Regions from separate parts of the Homo sapiens genome. Here region 1 is linked to region 2. Evidence: fine-mapped expression QTL. A gene starts in region 2. The other region holds a variant in brackets. All regions are shown on one strand. Distances are between the middles of the regions.

Region 1 (8,308 bases), 38 kb after region 2:
GGATTACAGGCATGAGCCACCGTGCCTGGCCAATAATCTTAAATAATCTAAAAATAATGTTCTGCCCAAATTACAAATTACCAAATTAGGGTCCATTTATGCATAATTTTATCCATTAATTCAGGAAGCATTTAACAGTGCCTGGCACAGTTGCCAGGCATGGAGTATACATTAGTGAATAAAACAGGGGTAGTTCCTCTGGGATTCTAGGCTAGTTTGTTTGTTTGTTTGTTTGTTTATTGAGATGGAGTCTTGCTCTTGAAGCTCAGGCTGGAGCAGTGGTGCGATCTCAGCTCTCTGCAACCTCCACAATCTGGGTTCAAGTGATTCTCCTGCCTCAGCCTCCCAAGTAGCTGGGATTACAGGCATGTGCCACCACCCCCGGCTAATTTTTGTATTTTTGGTAGAGACGGGATATCACCACATTGGCCAGGCTGATCTCCAACTCCTGATCTCAAGTGATCCTCCCACCTTGGCCTCCCAAAGTGCTGGGATTACAGGGGTGAGCTCCCGGCCTCTAGGCTAGTTTAATACCAGATGTTACACAGATAATAAATTCATAGTTTCAACTTGTGATGAGAGTTATGAAGGAACATGGCAGGGTGCCCTGAGAGAATGCGCTAAGGCAGGGGTGTCCGCTCTTTTGGTTTCCCTGGGCCATATTGGAAGAAAAATTGTCTTAGGCCACACAAAAAATACACTAATGATAGCTGATGAGCTAAAAAAAAAAAAAAGAAAAGAAAAAAAAAAAGAAAGTCGCAAAAAAAAAAAATCTCATAATGGTTTTTTTTTTTTGAGACGGAGTCTTGCTCTGTCCCCTGGGCTGGAGTGCAGTGGCGCGATCTCGGCTCACTGCAAGCTCCGCCTCCCGGGTTCACGCCATTCTCCTGCCTCAGCCTCCCGAGTAGCTGGGACTACAGGCGCCCGCCACCACGCCCGACTAATTTTTTTGTATTTTTAGTAGAGACGAGGTTTCACCGGATTAGCCAGGATGGTCTCGATCTCCTGACCTCTGGTCCGCCCGCCTCGGCCTCCCAAAGTGCTGGAATTACAGGCTTGAGCCACCGCGCCCGGCATAAAATCTCATAATGTTTTAAGAAAGTTTACAAATTTGTGTTGGGCCTCATTCGAAACCATCCTGGTCGGCATGCAGCCTGTGGGCCACGGTTGTGGACGAGCTTGCACTGAGGGGAGACCTATAGTATCTGGCATTGTGTGTGGGAAGAAGCCTGGAGACTGAGCCCTGGAGAGAAGGAGAGGGTGGGTCAAGGTGAGAGATGAGCTCTTTTTGAGAGGGAACCAGCCCAAAGGCGAGGCATTCAAGGTAGAGAGTGGTAATCGAAAGCGAGAAATGGAAATTGTTATCTCTTTGTTTTAGTAACTGGGAATGTAAGTCTCCCCATGTCATCGGCCTCTATTCTTTCTAAAAACTTTTCAAGGGATGTATTTAGCCTTCCTACAAGAGTATTTTGATTTGTTTTTGAACAGGTCTTTCTGAACCTGTCCCACTTTTATTGATGCTTTCGCTGATGTTTGTGAAAGGCATCTGGGAAGGGCACTAGCCAGTCAGGCTTTTAACACCTGTCTGTGGGTTCAACAAAGAGGAATTAAGCTTCTTCTCAATTGCAGATGTCGTGTTGTATTCTGGGTCCCATAGGAGATCTTGACTGACCCAGGAGTGGTCCCCTCCGGGAAGAAGGACGCTCAGCCACCAGCTGCCCCCAGGTGTTCGTCCCCAGGGGTAGAACTCACCCACTTTATGAGCAAGTCTTTGTCAAGGAAAGAAGACGGCAATTGAAATTTTCATTGAGCTGTTAGCATTTTTTTCAGAAAACCATTTTGTCCCAGTGTGTGTAAGAAGTTATTCCTTCATTCAACACATGTTGAGTGCCTTCTGTGTCTGGCACATTTCCAGGTGCTGGGATACAGCAGTAAACAGATTCCATGTCAGTGGATAAACACACACTGGAAACACATAAGTGAAACACAGAGGGTGTCAGGGAGGTTATAATCACTACCTAGAAAATTAAAGGAGGGAAGGAGGCCTTAGGGAGAGTCACCTGGGAGGTGGAGACAGGTGTTGAAATTGTTAAAAATAGCATCAGGAAAAGGCTTACTGAGTGACATTTGAGCAAAGATTTACATGTGAGGGAAGAGCATTCCAGGCAAGAGGGCACAGTGAGTGCTATGGTCTTGCAGGAGCATGCTTGGGATATTTGTGGAACAGCACAAATCCTGCAGTGGCTTGAGTATGGGCAGTGAGAGGGAAGAGTACACACGAGAGGAGGTGAAGGGGAAAAGGGAAGATCATGCATCCGGGGCCTTGTGGCCACTGTGAATACTTTGGCTTTCCCTCTGGTTAAACAGGAAGATGCTGGAGGCTGTTAAATTGGCTGTAGGGGCAAGGGTGGAAGGAGACTCTGATGAGATGGCGGTAGCATGGATCTAGATGGAGGTGGTGGAAAGAGGTCAGGTTTGAGATATTTTGAAGGGAGAGCTGATGGACTAGATGTGGGCTATGTGAGAAGGAGAAAGATTGGGAGAAGAATAGGTTATGGACTTGTTAAATTTAGATCCATATTAGGGTGCTCGTGTCAAAAATGTAGTTGGGTGTATGAGTCTGGAGTCAGGAGAGAAGCCTGGGTGGGAAGGGTGTCTGTGAGCCATCTGTGTACATATGGTATTTACATCCATGAGACTGTGGAGTGACTGTGTGTTGGGTAAGAACTTCAGTGTCTTGGGGTTGTAGGCATGAGAGGAACCAGCGAAGGAGACACAGGAAAGGTGGCCAGCAAGGAGGTGGAGACAAGGTCTGACGATGAGTGACTCTCTGGACCCCCGTGCAGGTGTGACAACATGCGTGTGTTTAAGCTGGGCCTCTTCTCGGGCCTCTGGTGGACCCTGGCCCTGTTCTGCTGGATCAGTGACCGAGCTTTCTGCGAGCTGCTGTCATCCTTCAACTTCCCCTACCTGCACTGCATGTGGTAAGCCCCTGCTAATGGGGAGGTGGCCGGGGACAGGTGTGTTTGCACTTGCTGTTGGGCTCTGTTCACCCTGCAAGTGGTGCACAGGTGTCCTGTGGGTTGCTGGCTTGCTTCTCTCCTCAGGTGGACGGTCAGATGGTTCAGAAGCCACTGAAAGCACACTTTGTAAAAAGCTGAATTGACTCCAGGGAGCAGGCTTAGCCGGAACGAAAGGCCTGATTGTCATGCTTAGGTCTGCAGTCTTTTACCTCTAACTCCATTATTAAAGCCTAAAGGAGCTTGAGAACTGAACCTGTAACCTGAGCTCTAGCTAGGTGTTGGGGGAGGGGAGAGGTAGGGGAAAGCTGGGGAAAGAGGTGATGTGAGGGCTGGGAGGGTCCTCAGTGGGAACCCCACCTTTAGGGCCTGAGAGACCAAGTGCAAGGAGGGGCCGCACTGGCCATTTAGAGACATTCTCTTCCATTATTTCTATAAGTGGGGACAGAAGACCAGAGAGCTAAAGTGAATTGTTTAATGTCACCCACCTGTTTCTGTAGAAAACAACCTTGGAGTTCAGTAATAGCACATTGGAGCGTCTATACTTTGGAATGCTCAGGATACACTAAGTTAAAAAAAAAAAAGCGGGTTACAAAATACATGCAGAATCCGATTCTGAGAAAGCTGGGGGAAATTGGAGTGGCTTTCTTCCTAGGAACTGCTTCAGCCTCAAACCCAGAGTGATCTTTCCTTTCTGTCCTCCAGGACTTCTGATTGCAAAAGATCACAAGGAGGAGAAATCTGCTGTAGGTTATCCCCTATAGGTAGGAGGAACCCAGAGAGGAATTCTAGTGGTGAAGAAATGGAAAAACTTTGTTAGATCTAGATTCAGGAAAAGGTTGACTTCTATCCAGAGATAGGCTAAAAATATACAATTTGATAGAATTCACTTAAGTTCCCTTGCTCATGTGAACTTTGATATATTTGCTATGAGACCCACCCTACTCTAAATTTAAGACTTGGGGACTTCAAGGAGTGTTTGTAAAAGACAAAATTCAAACAGCACAAGTTGGAGTTTACCGTCTTAGGATCCATTGCTCGATATTTTTTAGATTCAACTCAACTAATACTAGTGAATTTATATAGTTTATATATTTGTTGGGTTATAATTTCCAGATAACAAAATGTACAGATTTTAAGTGTATATTGTGAATTTTGAGAAATGTATACACTAGGTAAATATGACCTCATTCAAGATGGTCATTTTTATCTAAGTCCCCTGTCACACATGATTTAAGTCAAATTCGAAATTTAAACTATGTAATAATTTTGACTCAAACTTAATGTGTTTCTGAATTTGGTATATTTCTGCTTTGTTTTTCAAAGTTGAACCATATTTTCTTTCCAGTTATAAAATGACATATTTTTTATAACAAATTTAAACAACATAGAAGTATAGAAAGAATGGCTCTCATAATTCTATCCC[C/T]CAAAGAAACATAATTATTAACAGTCTGATGTATATCCATTGAGATTTTATATGTACACACACACGCACACATATATATGTCTACTTTTAAAAAAAATAGCATCATTCTATACACGATGCAAACTTTTTTTTTTTTTTTTTTTTGAGACAAAGTCTCACTCTGTTGCCCAGGCTGGAGTGCAGTGGGGTGATCTTGGCTCACTGCAATCTCTGCCTCCCGGACTGAAAGTGATTCTCCCACCTCACCCCCTGCAGGGAGCTGGGACTACAGGTGCATGCCACTGTGCCAGGCTAATTTATTTTGAATTTTTTTGTAGAGATGGATTTTTGCCATGTTGCCCAGGCTAGTCAGAAACTCCTGGGCTCGAGCAGGTCCACCTGCCTTGGGCTCCCAAAGTGCTGGGATTACAGGCATGAGCCATTGAGCCTGGCCCAAACTTTTTTTTTAACCAAATACTTAAATCTATACTACATAGATCTAATGCTATACAGACATCATTCCATACCAATACATATATATAATCTTCATTTTTGTGTCTAATAAATGCTTCATAATATGGACACTTTATAATTTATTTAACCAACCTCTCTCTGATAACGGACTTTGAGGTTATTTCTAATTTTCCACTTTTGCAAACACTTTATAATGAACATCTAGATTGATTTGAGTTTCTGAATATTTTCATATGTTAAATTAATATTATATATTGCTAAATCCAGAGAAACTGTACCATTAACACTGTTTACTGAAGTCTGTAAGAGAGCATTTTTTACCCACACTTTCACATATACTGGAAACTCTTAAATCTCCATTAACCTGTTTGAGAAAAATTATATTTTGTTTTTATTATTATGTCTTTTTAAAAAATTAGTATTTTTGTTGGGCATCTTTTCAAATGTCAATTTGTGATGTGTATTTCCCCTTTTAATTTTCTTTGTCTGGTCTATTGAGTGTTTCTATTTTTAAAAGTTCATATCAGCCGGGCGTGGTGGCTCACGCCCGTAATCTCAGCACTTTGGGAGGCCGAGGCAGGTGGATCACCAGGTCAGGAGATCGAGACCATCCTGGCTAACACGGTGAAACCCCGTCTCTACTAAAAATGCAAAAAATTAGCCGGATGTGCATGTAGTCCCAGCTATTTGGGAGGTTGAGGCAGGAGAATCGTTTGAACCTGGGAGGCGGAGATTGAAGTGAGCTGAGATTGTGCCACTGTACTCTAGCCTGAGCAACAGAGTGAGACCCCGTCTCCAAAAAATAAAAAATAAAACAGTTTATATTCAGCATCTAGGCTTGGCACATAGTAGACAGTCATTACTAGCTACGTAACTATGTGCCACTTATGCATATTTGCAACATTTTCACAAGTACAGAGAATAATACATTGAACCCCCATATAGGCAACACCCAGATTCCATAACTATCAACACGAGGCCAATCTGGTTCATACCATTCTCACCTACTTCCCACCCTGACCCTGATTAATTTCTTTAGTGTTCTTTGTATGTAGGGATTTAAACTTTGTCATATGGTACAAATATTCCCTGCCCCCCTGCAGTTTCTCATTTGTCTTTCAGTATATTAATATTTTTGTGCCATACTGGTTTTAAACTTTCATATTGTCACATCTGTTAATCTTTTCTATAGGATTTCTGGATTTTGTGTAATTTTTAAAAAGATCCCCTCCTCCCCAACATCAAAGTTTATAAAAATATTGTCTTTGGGCTGGGCGCAGTGGCTTACGACTGTAATCCCAGCACTTTGGGAGGCCGAGGCAGGTGGATTACCTGAGGTCAGGAGTTCAAGACCAGCCTGGCCAACATGGTGAAACCCCCTCCCTCTCTACTAAAAATACAAAAATTAGCTAGGTGGGCCTGGTGGTGGGTGCCTGTAATCCCAGCTACTTGGGAGGCTGAGGCAGGAGAATTGCTTGAACCCAGGAGGCAGAGGTTGCAGTGAGCCGAGATTGCACCATTGCACTCCAGCCTGGATGACAGGGTGAGACTTCATTTAAAAAAAAAAAAAAAAAAAAAGGATTACATGCTTTTAAATGGTCTATTGTTCGATAAAGTTTAATATAAATTTAAAACTTTGTACAGGTACAGTGAGGATAAATTTTTTAAAATTTCCACTAAACTGCAAAAGTGGTTTAACCAACATAAAATTATTCCTGATGAAGGACATAAAATATCTGTAACCAGTTGTTAAAGTGAGAAGGTGGGTTCTAATCAGATGTGCTCAGTTACTTCCATCTTAGCATCTCTGTTGTAAATCCTTGGGCCTCAGTCTTCTTGTTTGAGGCCCAAAGGCATTTATTTGCACATTTGTTCCTATTATCCAGCAGGACTATTTAAGAACATTCTAAAACGGGTCCCAAATTGCTGAAGATTTATCATCCTGCTATTCCAGGGATTGTTGGTAATCTTCATCCTTTCCTAATTAGAAGAGGCCCCTGGGCTGCAACTACAGTCAGCAAGGTGCGTGGGTTAGACCGGAAGAAGGAGCAGGCTAAACTCAGGGCAGCGGAGTCTTCATGCTCATCAGGTTCTCACCTCTTGTCTCCCTCTGCAGGCACATCCTCATCTGCCTTGCTGCCTACCTGGGCTGTGTATGCTTTGCCTACTTTGATGCTGCCTCAGAGATTCCTGAGCAAGGCCCTGTCATCAAGTTCTGGCCCAATGAGAAATGGGCCTTCATTGGTGTCCCCTATGTGTCCCTCCTGTGTGCCAACAAGAAATCATCAGTCAAGATCACGTGATGGCAAGATGGTGGCTGGCTTCTCTGCTTATCGCCCCTCATGCAGTGGGCTTCCTTTGCTAGGAAGACAGCCAAGGGAGTTCGAATAGTTGGGGTGTGGGCTATCTTTTCAAAAATCTATTTGCTGGGGCTCTTAATTTCTTTAGTGTTCTTTGTATGTAGGGATTTAAACTTTGTCATATGGTACAAATATTCCCTGCCCCCCTGCAGTTTCCCATTTGTCTTTCAGTATGTTAATATTTTTGTGCCATACTGGTTTTAAACTTTCATGTTGTCACATCTGTTAATCTTTTCTTTAGGATTTCTGGATTTTGTGTAATTTTTAAAAAGGTCCCCTCCTCCTCCCTAATGTGTCTGTGGACCACCTGGATTCCACTGTACAAGGGGAAAAGTGTCTATTCCTTTCCCAAAGATGGAAAATGGAGGGCTTAGGGACACTAGATGCATCTTTCTCAGCATCACTTCCAGATGCAGTGACTTGTTGGGCTGCGTCCTTAATGGCCATGGCAGAGCAGTCCCTTGGGGGATCCAGCCCTGTACAATGCATCTCTTCCTGGAGAAAGCTGGCCTGCTCCAGACCCCACCATTCCCAGGCGCCCTTGGAGTGGACTCTACTGATGACAGACAGACCCTCTGAGAGACAAGACCCTCTGACTCTGTGATGGAAGATGCCAGAGATTTTCCTTTGGGGTAATTGTCCTTAAACAAAACCAAACAGATGAAACACACACAGGACTTGTGGCTAAAAAGGCTAGTTTTTCACTTGCATTTCTCAACTAACCCAGGTTTTACATGCATCTGTGAATCCTTTTACTACTACCTCTGTGGAGAGATGGAGAGACTTCAGATAAACGTGAAGCTAATGAGTAAAACCCTCTCTGCCAAAACCTACACTCCACTTTAGGCCCTTCTTGAAGATGAGCACAATTTTTAAATACTGAGCACAATTTTTAAATACTGACATCACTTCCTCTTCCCCCTCCCACCCCAGCTCAGCAGCCTCAAATCTACAGAGAAGAAGAATTATGGCATGAACATTCCCACAGACCCACCATCTTTAAGACTTGACCTCTGTAAGTTTACCAAAGGGCTCCTCACAATTGTGGT
Region 2 (8,718 bases):
TTTACCCAAGGGAAGACTTTGTGACTTGATAATTTCCACTTGTGGAACCAGTTGAACTGGATATTTACTATCAGATATTTACTTATACCAAATAAACATTGTTATACACTATGTAAAAATAGAAGGTGCTGTCATTCTGAATTCCTTGCAAGGGCTGTTCCTTCAAACTTGCTCCCTTGTGGATCTGTATCACTGAGTCATGTAGGCCAAAAGCATCGTAAGCCAAATAGTTGGAACTCAGTAGTTCTGTTCCTTGCTGTCACTGCATCCTTCCCTCAACAAACTTAGTTTAGAGTAGACATCAGAATTTTGTATTCAACCACTAGCAGTAGTTTCTAAGGCATCATGCAATTAATATAAATCAATTTTAAAATTTATAACCTCCTGATAGGCCCTCTTGTTAAATTACCAATGTTGTATTTATTTTAAAAATGTTGGCTGGATGCAATGGCTCACTCCTATAATCCTAGCACTTTGGGAGGCTCAAGGGATCACTTGAACCTGGGAGTTTGAGACCAGCCTGGGCAACATGATGAAACCTTGTCTCTACAAAACATACAACATTTAGCTGGGCATTGTGGTGCACCCTTGTGGTCCTAGCTACTCATGAGGCTGAGGTGGGAGGGTCGCTTGAGTCTGGGGTGGGGGGGTCAAGGTTGCAGTGAGCTGAAATTGCACCATTGCACACCAACCAGGGTAACAGAGGGTTACCCTGTCTCAAAAAAAAAAAAAAAAGTTAACAATGTTAACAATGGGGAGAGCTATGAAAACAAAATTTTAGAGACAGTGTGACTCAAGTACGGTTTCTGTGCAGTTGTAATTAGAAGGAACCAATGTGGCTGACTGATTTTGAACTACAATTGTCACTGACAATAAGAGTTACTGTGGAGGATGAAAAACTCCCATCATTCCCTTAGCAAGACTTGGAAAGAAGGATGAATTACATTCAGCAAATTTAATATTTCACTGGTGCTAAAACTCACATTGTTTTGCGTTGTTAAATCTCTGAAATCCTGATGCATTTTACCAAGAATGGCATTTTATGATTATGGTTGGCTAGGTCATGGTTGTGATGTGGTGTCACTGCCTGCATATGTACAGACTTGGTGGTTATTCCTGGTGGGATGACTTGGCAACTGTAATCTCCATGTTTCTCTCAACAGATTATATAAGGACCATCTGGAAAAGAAACATGCTGCCTGTTGTCTGGAAACCTTCCACTGACACCTTCAGGTAAGATCAGGAGAGTCCCAGCATCAAAATTTGTAAAACAGGTGTCAGTAGTTTGCAAGAAAACAGTAGTGGAATAGTTTTAAGAAATGCTGCATTATTAGCACATAGTAATTAAGGACACAGAGGACATTTCTATATGAATGACACAGACATCAATGACTATAAGCTGAAAAATGACTCAGAAGAACAGAGATTCTGAATGTAAAGAAATTACAGGAATTCTTTAATGAATTTATTTTTGCTTATACCTTCCTTCTTAGGTATGCACAAGAGATGTATGATAACAATGTAAGTCTAAGTCTGTGCTTGTTCACTAAAAATTCTAAATGATAAAAAAGTATTACAAATAGTTTAATTGGAAATATTTCTTTTTTTTTTTTTTTTTTTTGAGATGGAGTCTCGCTCTGTTGCCCAAGCTGGAGTGCAGCGGCGCGATCTTGGCTCACTGCAACCTCTGCCCCCTGGGTTCAAGCGATTCTTCTGCCTCAGCCTCCCGCATAGCTGGAGGTGCCCACCATCATGCCCTGCTAATTTTTGTATTTTAATAGAGACGGGGTTTTGCCAAGTTCACCAGGCTGGTCCCGAACTCCAGACCTCAGAAGAGCTGCCTGCTTTGGCCTCCCAAAGTGCTGGGATTACAGGCATGAGCCACTGCATCCGGCCAGGAACATCTTTTTAACAGCAACTTTCAATCTTTTTAGTCTGAGGACCCCTTTACACTCTTAAAAAATATTGAGAACACCAGAGAACTTGTGGTTTATATGGTAACATCAATAGTTACCGCATTAGAAATTTAAACAGACTTTTAATACCAAAGAATCACAAGCACATATTCCATTAGCTGTCGGAGAGATAATGACATCACACATCATGTATCCTCTGGGAAGTTCCAATGTACACTGGTAAGAGAATGAAAATGAAAAGAAAGGGAGGAACCACACTTTGAGAATCTCTGGCATATAAAATAATGGTTTTTTAAAAATACCATTATATTTTGATGAATATGGATATATTTCCAAGTAAACTGTTGTTGGAAGAAGTAAAATATTGACTACAGGGAAAATTCTATTGCTGAACAGTTGGTGTAGCATTTTGAGACACAGAAATTAACTGATGTATCTTTCTTCTGTGGCTGTGGGAAACATCCACCCCAACCGCCCTTCGTTTTTGAGATGGAATCTCGCTCTGTCACCCAGGCTGGAGTGCAGTGGCGCGATCTCGGCTCACTGCAAGCTCCGCTTCCCGGGTTCACGCAATTCTCCTGCCTCAGCCTCCTGCGTAGCTGGGACTACAGGCGCCCGCCACGACGCCCGGGTAATTTTTTGTATTCTTTTTTTAAGTAGAGACGGGGTTTCACCATGTTAGCCAGGATGGTCTCCATCTCCTGACCTCGTGATCCGCCTGCCTCGGCCTCCCAAAGTGCTGGGATTACAGGCATGAGCCACCGCGCCCGGCCCTCAACCGCCTTTCTTAGGTGGCCAGCTCACTCCGGGTATCCTGTAGGTCTGGGTAAATCAACCCTAGGGGAAGGTAAGAGTGTATCTTCTACTTGGGTTCTGGAGGGCAGTGGAATTGCCCGTAAAGCAGGAGGAAGGGATAGAGGTTGGGACAAAGATGAAAGGAGGAGTGTGGTTTGGCCCCTGGGGGACAAACCTGGATTTTCTAGAGACTAGGAGAGGCGGCGGGGCTTGCAGTTTTTGTCAGTGATGGAGATCTCTGGGGACTTGCACATGGCTGTGTGGGTACTGGTGGGCAGACAAACACTTGGTGCAGAGGACACTGAAGCACCACCCAGGGTCCTGCTGGGCAGTCAGGCCCAGAGAGAGGGCAGACCCTGGGGAGTTGCTGGCCTTTAGGATACCCTGCGGGTCCGAGCAAGACGTCCTAATGACAGTCACCAATGGGCTGCTGCCCAGGGCCTCTTCTGCCGCTGTCCTGACCTAGAATCCTACAACCTTTCAAGGAAGGAGAACGGGAGCCACCACATACACACAGAGGGTGGCTTTCCTCTAGGGATCCTGGGAACCAGATTGGCTTTCATTTACAAACCGCAGAACAGTTACAGAAGCAAAAGAAGGTAGTTATGACTGGATCTGAGGACATCTTGCCTGAATTGAATTTCCAGCTCTGTCACTTGCTAATAGAAGCCCCTCACAGGGTCTCTGCTGGGCACACTAAATGAGTGATACATGGAAACTCTTCAGACAGCACCTGGCATGTGTATGTTATCTATCACCTCTTGAACCTCGATATCTTGGAGATGTCATAACTGCCACACTACATCCTCTGCAGTTTGGGATGGCTGACGTTTGACCCTTTGCCTAAGTCCCCATATCGAAGGCTAGATTAAGCCTTAACGCTGGAGCCAAGGGGAGGGAGGGCAGGAACGTACTCTAAATAGAAGTGCTCCCCCGGGGACTGGGCGGCCCAACCTGCTCCAGCAGCCGGGAAGGTCTTCCTGCCACAGTGACCGCAGCGAGTGGCGTCCGGCCTCGGAGGGACTGAGGGCACTTCTCTGGTGTAAGCACTGGCGTCCAACGCCGGACGCAGCAAAATCGCTGCAAACTCTGGGTCCAGAGAGGTCCAGGTCCTCCCGGGTTTCTTTTTATTTTAAATTTTTTTCCAGGGAGAGTTCTGGCGCTCCTTCAATCGGGGGAGGCTGCGAGTCTGAGCCAGGAGATGGGCGTGGGCAGGCGTGGGTAGCACCATCGAGGCCCTGGCCACCTGCCGGGTGCTGGGTAGTCTGGAAGAGTCTGGAGCCCGGTCTCCGCCTCCAGGCGCCCCACCCTGGACCCCTCCTCCACGCGGGTCCCGCCCCACGGTGGGCGTGGCTTCCAGGGGGAGGGGCCGGGGAGGGTCTGCGAACGAGTAACCTCCCGCAGGCGAGGCGAGGCGGGGCGGAGCGCGGGAGGCCAGTTGGGAGGCGCACATCCGGCGGTTACCCGGTGCTTCATAAAGCCGCTTTCGCCGCTGGCTGTCGCCGCGTTTTGCCTCCGCAGCAGCTCTGGGCTCTTCTCAGCTGCGCGAGCAGCTGCTCCAATGCCCCGGAGTGGCCATGGGCGCCCCGCACTGGTGGGACCAGCTGCAGGCTGGTAGCTCGGAGGTGGACTGGTGCGAGGACAACTACACCATCGTGCCTGCTATCGCCGAGTTCTACAACACGGTGCGGGGCGCGGGAGCGGGGAAGGCAGGCGGGCCAGCGGGAGGGGGCTGTTCCCGCGCCGCAGCGTCTGGAAGCTGGACGTGGGTCTCTGCGCGCATCTGGGGGCATTCTCTCCAGGGGCTGAGTCAGTCCACACCCCCTCCTCGGCGCGCTCCTTTCAGTTCTCCATCTGTCCTCCTCTCCTGTCCCCATTCCCGACAGCTGGGCTCATCTTCCTCCTGCTGTCATTTGTTTTGTGATGGTCCTATTGTCTTGTTTGGCCCCCACGCGTCCAGGAACCAGGGGTCTGTGTCAGCCCATTCTCCTTGTTTGGGTCAGCTGGGGGCGGTGAACCTGCCGGGACAAGTCTCTTCCTCCCCTGGGATCTCTGTGGCGTGACGCACTTGGGTCGCATTGTGCTTTTTTGCCCTGAATACCTGCTCTCGGAGTGCTGGGAAGAGCACGCCCCCCGCAGGTCCCCGCGGCTGGGGTCACTCCCACCAGGCAGACTTGCCCCACCCCCAAGAACATGCCTATAATGGTCGAGTTATTTTTGGTCAGAATCAAGTTAATTACTACTTGTTTTTTTTTCTTGCCTTTAGTGTCCTGTCTTGTGCAAGCCGCTAATTCAACTCCCCCAGGACTGTGCTTTCTCCAGTTCTGAAGTCTGAGGGATGAAAGGAAAGTTTGGGAGTGATAATGTGCGGGTTTTGGATTTGCCTAGGTCCCTAGATAAGGGTGAGCAGAAACTTCCCCATTGCAGAATCCTGTGTGATTTTAGTTCTTGTGGTAGGGAAGGGTTGCAGCTGGGAGAGGAAATGCCTCTTATTTTGTGTATGTCCATGGCTCAGAATCCTGGTACAGAATGTGAGACTTTGCGTGGTCATTTCTGTGGCTTATCTTTTCACCGCCCAAACAAGGGAAACAGGAACTCCTGGTTTGGGTCATTGTGAATTTGAGGTTGTTGTTTAGGACTTTTCCTTTTGGATTTGCTAGAGAGAATGTCTTCAGCAGGAGTCAGGTGCTTACTGCCTGCAGGAATCTCAGATGATCTAGTCCCTGTCCTTTTATTCATCTGATGAGAAAACTGGGCTCTTGAGGAGGGAGCTGTCATGCTCACATTTCTGGCATGGCTGGGGCCACAATCCAGAAGTCTGGGCCCTTCCTTCCCTCAGTGCTGAAATCCATGGCTGGCTTCCACACAAACACTCCTGCTCCTTTTTTTATGATTAGGTTGGTTCCTTAAGAAAACCTAAGGCTGGGCGTTGTGGCTCACACCTGTATTCCTAGCACTTTGGGAGGCCAAGGCAGGTGGATCGCTTGAATCCAGGAGTTCGAGACCAACCTGGGCAACATGGCGAAACCTCATCTCTACAAAAAAATACAAAAATTAGCTGGACATGTGGCACACACTTGTCGTCCCAGCTACTTGGGAAGCTGAGGTGGGAGGATCACCTGAGCCTGGGAGTTGAAGGCTGCAATGAACTGAGATCGCGCCACTCCACTCCAGCCTGGGCAACAGGGTCTCAAAGAAAACCTGGCCCTCTGCTGACCACAGATACTGTGAAAGACAGTGGAAGTGGCCATGACTTATGTATTGCATAACCTCCCAGAGCATGCTGTCAGGGGTAAATAGTTGCACACAGAGGATGGGCTGGAGTAGTTCTGGGTACTTTCAATAAGGAGAAACACCAGTGGTAACACAAGCTGTCCTTTTGTAAATAAAGAATATAGTGAAAGAGTAAGGATTTCACCAGAGTTCAAGAAGAAAAGACAGCTTGATGACAGGTTCTCACACACTTAGCAAGATTATTCTCTGTGCAGCCTGGGGTCTACAGAGAGGGTCAACCTTGGTTATTTTGGCCAAAAAAGCTAGTGTATGGCTTCTCTGAGTCTGTCTTGAAAAGTGTCATAGGGCTGGATGAAAGGGAGAGTTTGTCTTTACTTTTAATCTAGTCCCATTGGAGCCGTTACTCTATGTAGTGAGTGCTAAAGTCTTTTTCAGAAACTAACTGTTGATCTTCAGCTGCATTGTCTGGCTGATGAGCCCAGCTGGCCCATCTGACAAACTTTATTCCTTGGAATACTCATAAACCACAAAATTTGCTCTGGCAAAGCAGAGAGCGTAAGGTGTCAGAGAATAAGGTCATTGCCTAACTTTGTTGAGTGTAGGTCCAAAGAATTTAGCAAAAAACGTTTCTTCCCCTCTGTTGCTATTTAAAAAAATTTTTTTTTGAGATGATCATGCTCTGTTCCAGGCTTGAGTGCTGTGGTGCGATCTTGGCTCACTGCGACCTCCACCTCCAGGTTCAAGCGATCCTCCCAAAGTGCTGGGATTACAGGCGTGAGTCACCATGCCCGGCCTTCTTCCCCTGTGTTCTTACGTACTACTTATATTTTGATGCTTATCACAGGACATTCCCATGCTTATCTTACTCCTGTGTTGAGAAAGACAGTAGACTGTTATGTGGTGATAAATATCGTCTTAAATCCTCATAATAAGGCAACAGGTCTAATTACCCAGTTTATAGGAAACTCATAATCATTACCAGTTTTGAGAAAAAGTTGGAGGAATTGACAATGTTAAATCAGGAGAAGACCGGGAGAGGGATCTAGAACCTTCTTAATGGGTCTTAGGGGTAGCACATCACTACTACACCTTCAGATACTACTGTCTACCATTACTTAATTGCTATGTGTTGAAGCTCTGCTGGGTACTGTATACTCATTCTAGACAATGGGTGCTATTTATTATATCCATTTGATAAAGATGGAAATTGGGGCCTAGAGAGTTTATGTAACTTGCTGTGGTCAAGAGCATAGCACAGCTGAAGTCAGAACTTGGTCCATTTGACTCTACCAAGAGAGTTATCTTGAAGCTATAAGTGCCACTGTAACTAACTTAGATTTATCTATTTGGCATAGAATAGATATTTATTATTTAGTCATTCCATAACTTAAAACTCCTGTCTTGGGATCATTTTATCTCTAGGATAAAACTCATACTTTTTGATAGGAAAAAAGTTTATTTAAAGTAGTTTGTAAAATTACTGTTTATTGTAAAAGTAATATGATCATGGTAAAAAATTTAGAGTATGTAAGTTGTAGAGTGAAAAATAACCTTCTGTATCTTTCTAGATATTTTCTAGGCATATAAAAAGCACATGTATCTGTGTGCATATAAAATACGCATGTATAAGGCTGGGGGCAGTGGCTCATGCCTGTAATCTCAGCACTTTGGGAGGCTGAGGCAGGCAGATCATTTGAGGTCAGGAGTTTGAGACCAACCTGGCCAACATGGTGAAACCTCATCTCTACTAAAAATACAAAAATTTAGCTGGTTGTGGTGGTGCGTGCCTGTAAGTCCCCGCTACTCAGGAGGCTGAGGCAGAAGAATAGCTTGAACCTGGGAGGTGAAGGTTGCAGTAAGCTGAGATCGCGCCACTGCACACTCTAGCCTGGGCAACAGAGCAAGATTCTGTCTCAAAAAAAAAAAAAAAAAAACCAGCATGTATGGCGTAATCACGAATACTTGAAGTTTTTTTCCAAGATGGTACTGTGTAAACTCTTATGTACCTTGTGTTTTTCACTTAATATGTCTTGGAGATATTTCCATATCAGCTCATATAGTGCTCTCTTCCTGTTTATAATGTTTATACAGTACTCCCTTTAATGGATTGATCATAATTTATTTATCTAATCAATCCTTATTGATGGACATTTCATATAGTTTCTCTCTGTTTTATTGTTTTCATTTTGGTTTTTGAACAGTGATTCAGTGAATATCCTCATTCATGCATCTGGATGTACTTTCGCAAGCACTAATCTTAGATGGGGATTGCTGTGTCAAGGAGGATATTCAGTTTAAATGCTGATAATTATTGTGAAATGGCACACTAAAGAGAGTGCACTGATTTGACTTCCACTGACAATGTTTGGGCATACAAAACATTTTGCTTTGGCCTCTGCAAATTTCTGTTGCCTCAAATTGTATCATCCTTTGCTTCAGCCAAGCCTAATATCTCTTCCATGAACATGTAATTTCCTTTCACAGCCTTTTACTTGTGCACATTTTATACTGTTTCTTCTATATACAAATTTTATTAATTGAGTTCCTTTTTATGTTTTAAGATTTAAGACCCCCTGGCTGGGCGCGGTGGCTCACGCCTGTAATCCCAGCACTTTGGGAGGCTGAAGTGGGAGGATCACTTGAGGTCAGGAGTTTGAGACCAGCCTGGCCAACACGGCGAAACCCCATCTTTACCAAAAATACAAAAAACTAGCCAAGTGTGGTGGTGTGTGCCTGTAGTCCCAGCTACTAGGGAGGCTGAGGCAGGAGAATT

What was found.
Region 1: its variant is fine-mapped to the expression of ACER2 in nasal epithelium (TOPMed, PIP 0.96).

What each region holds. Positions count from the first base shown.
Region 1 is chr9:19,443,435-19,451,742 of GRCh38, forward strand. ACER2 (alkaline ceramidase 2) reads left to right here. Exons shown (of 6, transcript NM_001010887.3): 5 at 2,847-2,984; 6 at 7,016-8,308. The coding sequence ends at 7,202. Among named protein-coding and RNA genes, the nearest start is that of MAP1LC3BP1, 16 kb to the right of the region's middle. RefSeq lists enhancers at 2,625-3,824, 2,763-3,509. The variant C/T (reference allele first, on the strand shown) is at 4,447.
Region 2 is chr9:19,404,797-19,413,514 of GRCh38, forward strand. It overlaps ACER2 (alkaline ceramidase 2), which reads left to right and starts at 4,213. Exons shown (of 6, transcript NM_001010887.3): 1 at 4,213-4,396. The coding sequence starts at 4,289. RefSeq lists enhancers at 3,183-4,040, 4,041-4,896, 4,309-4,458 and a silencer at 3,919-4,208.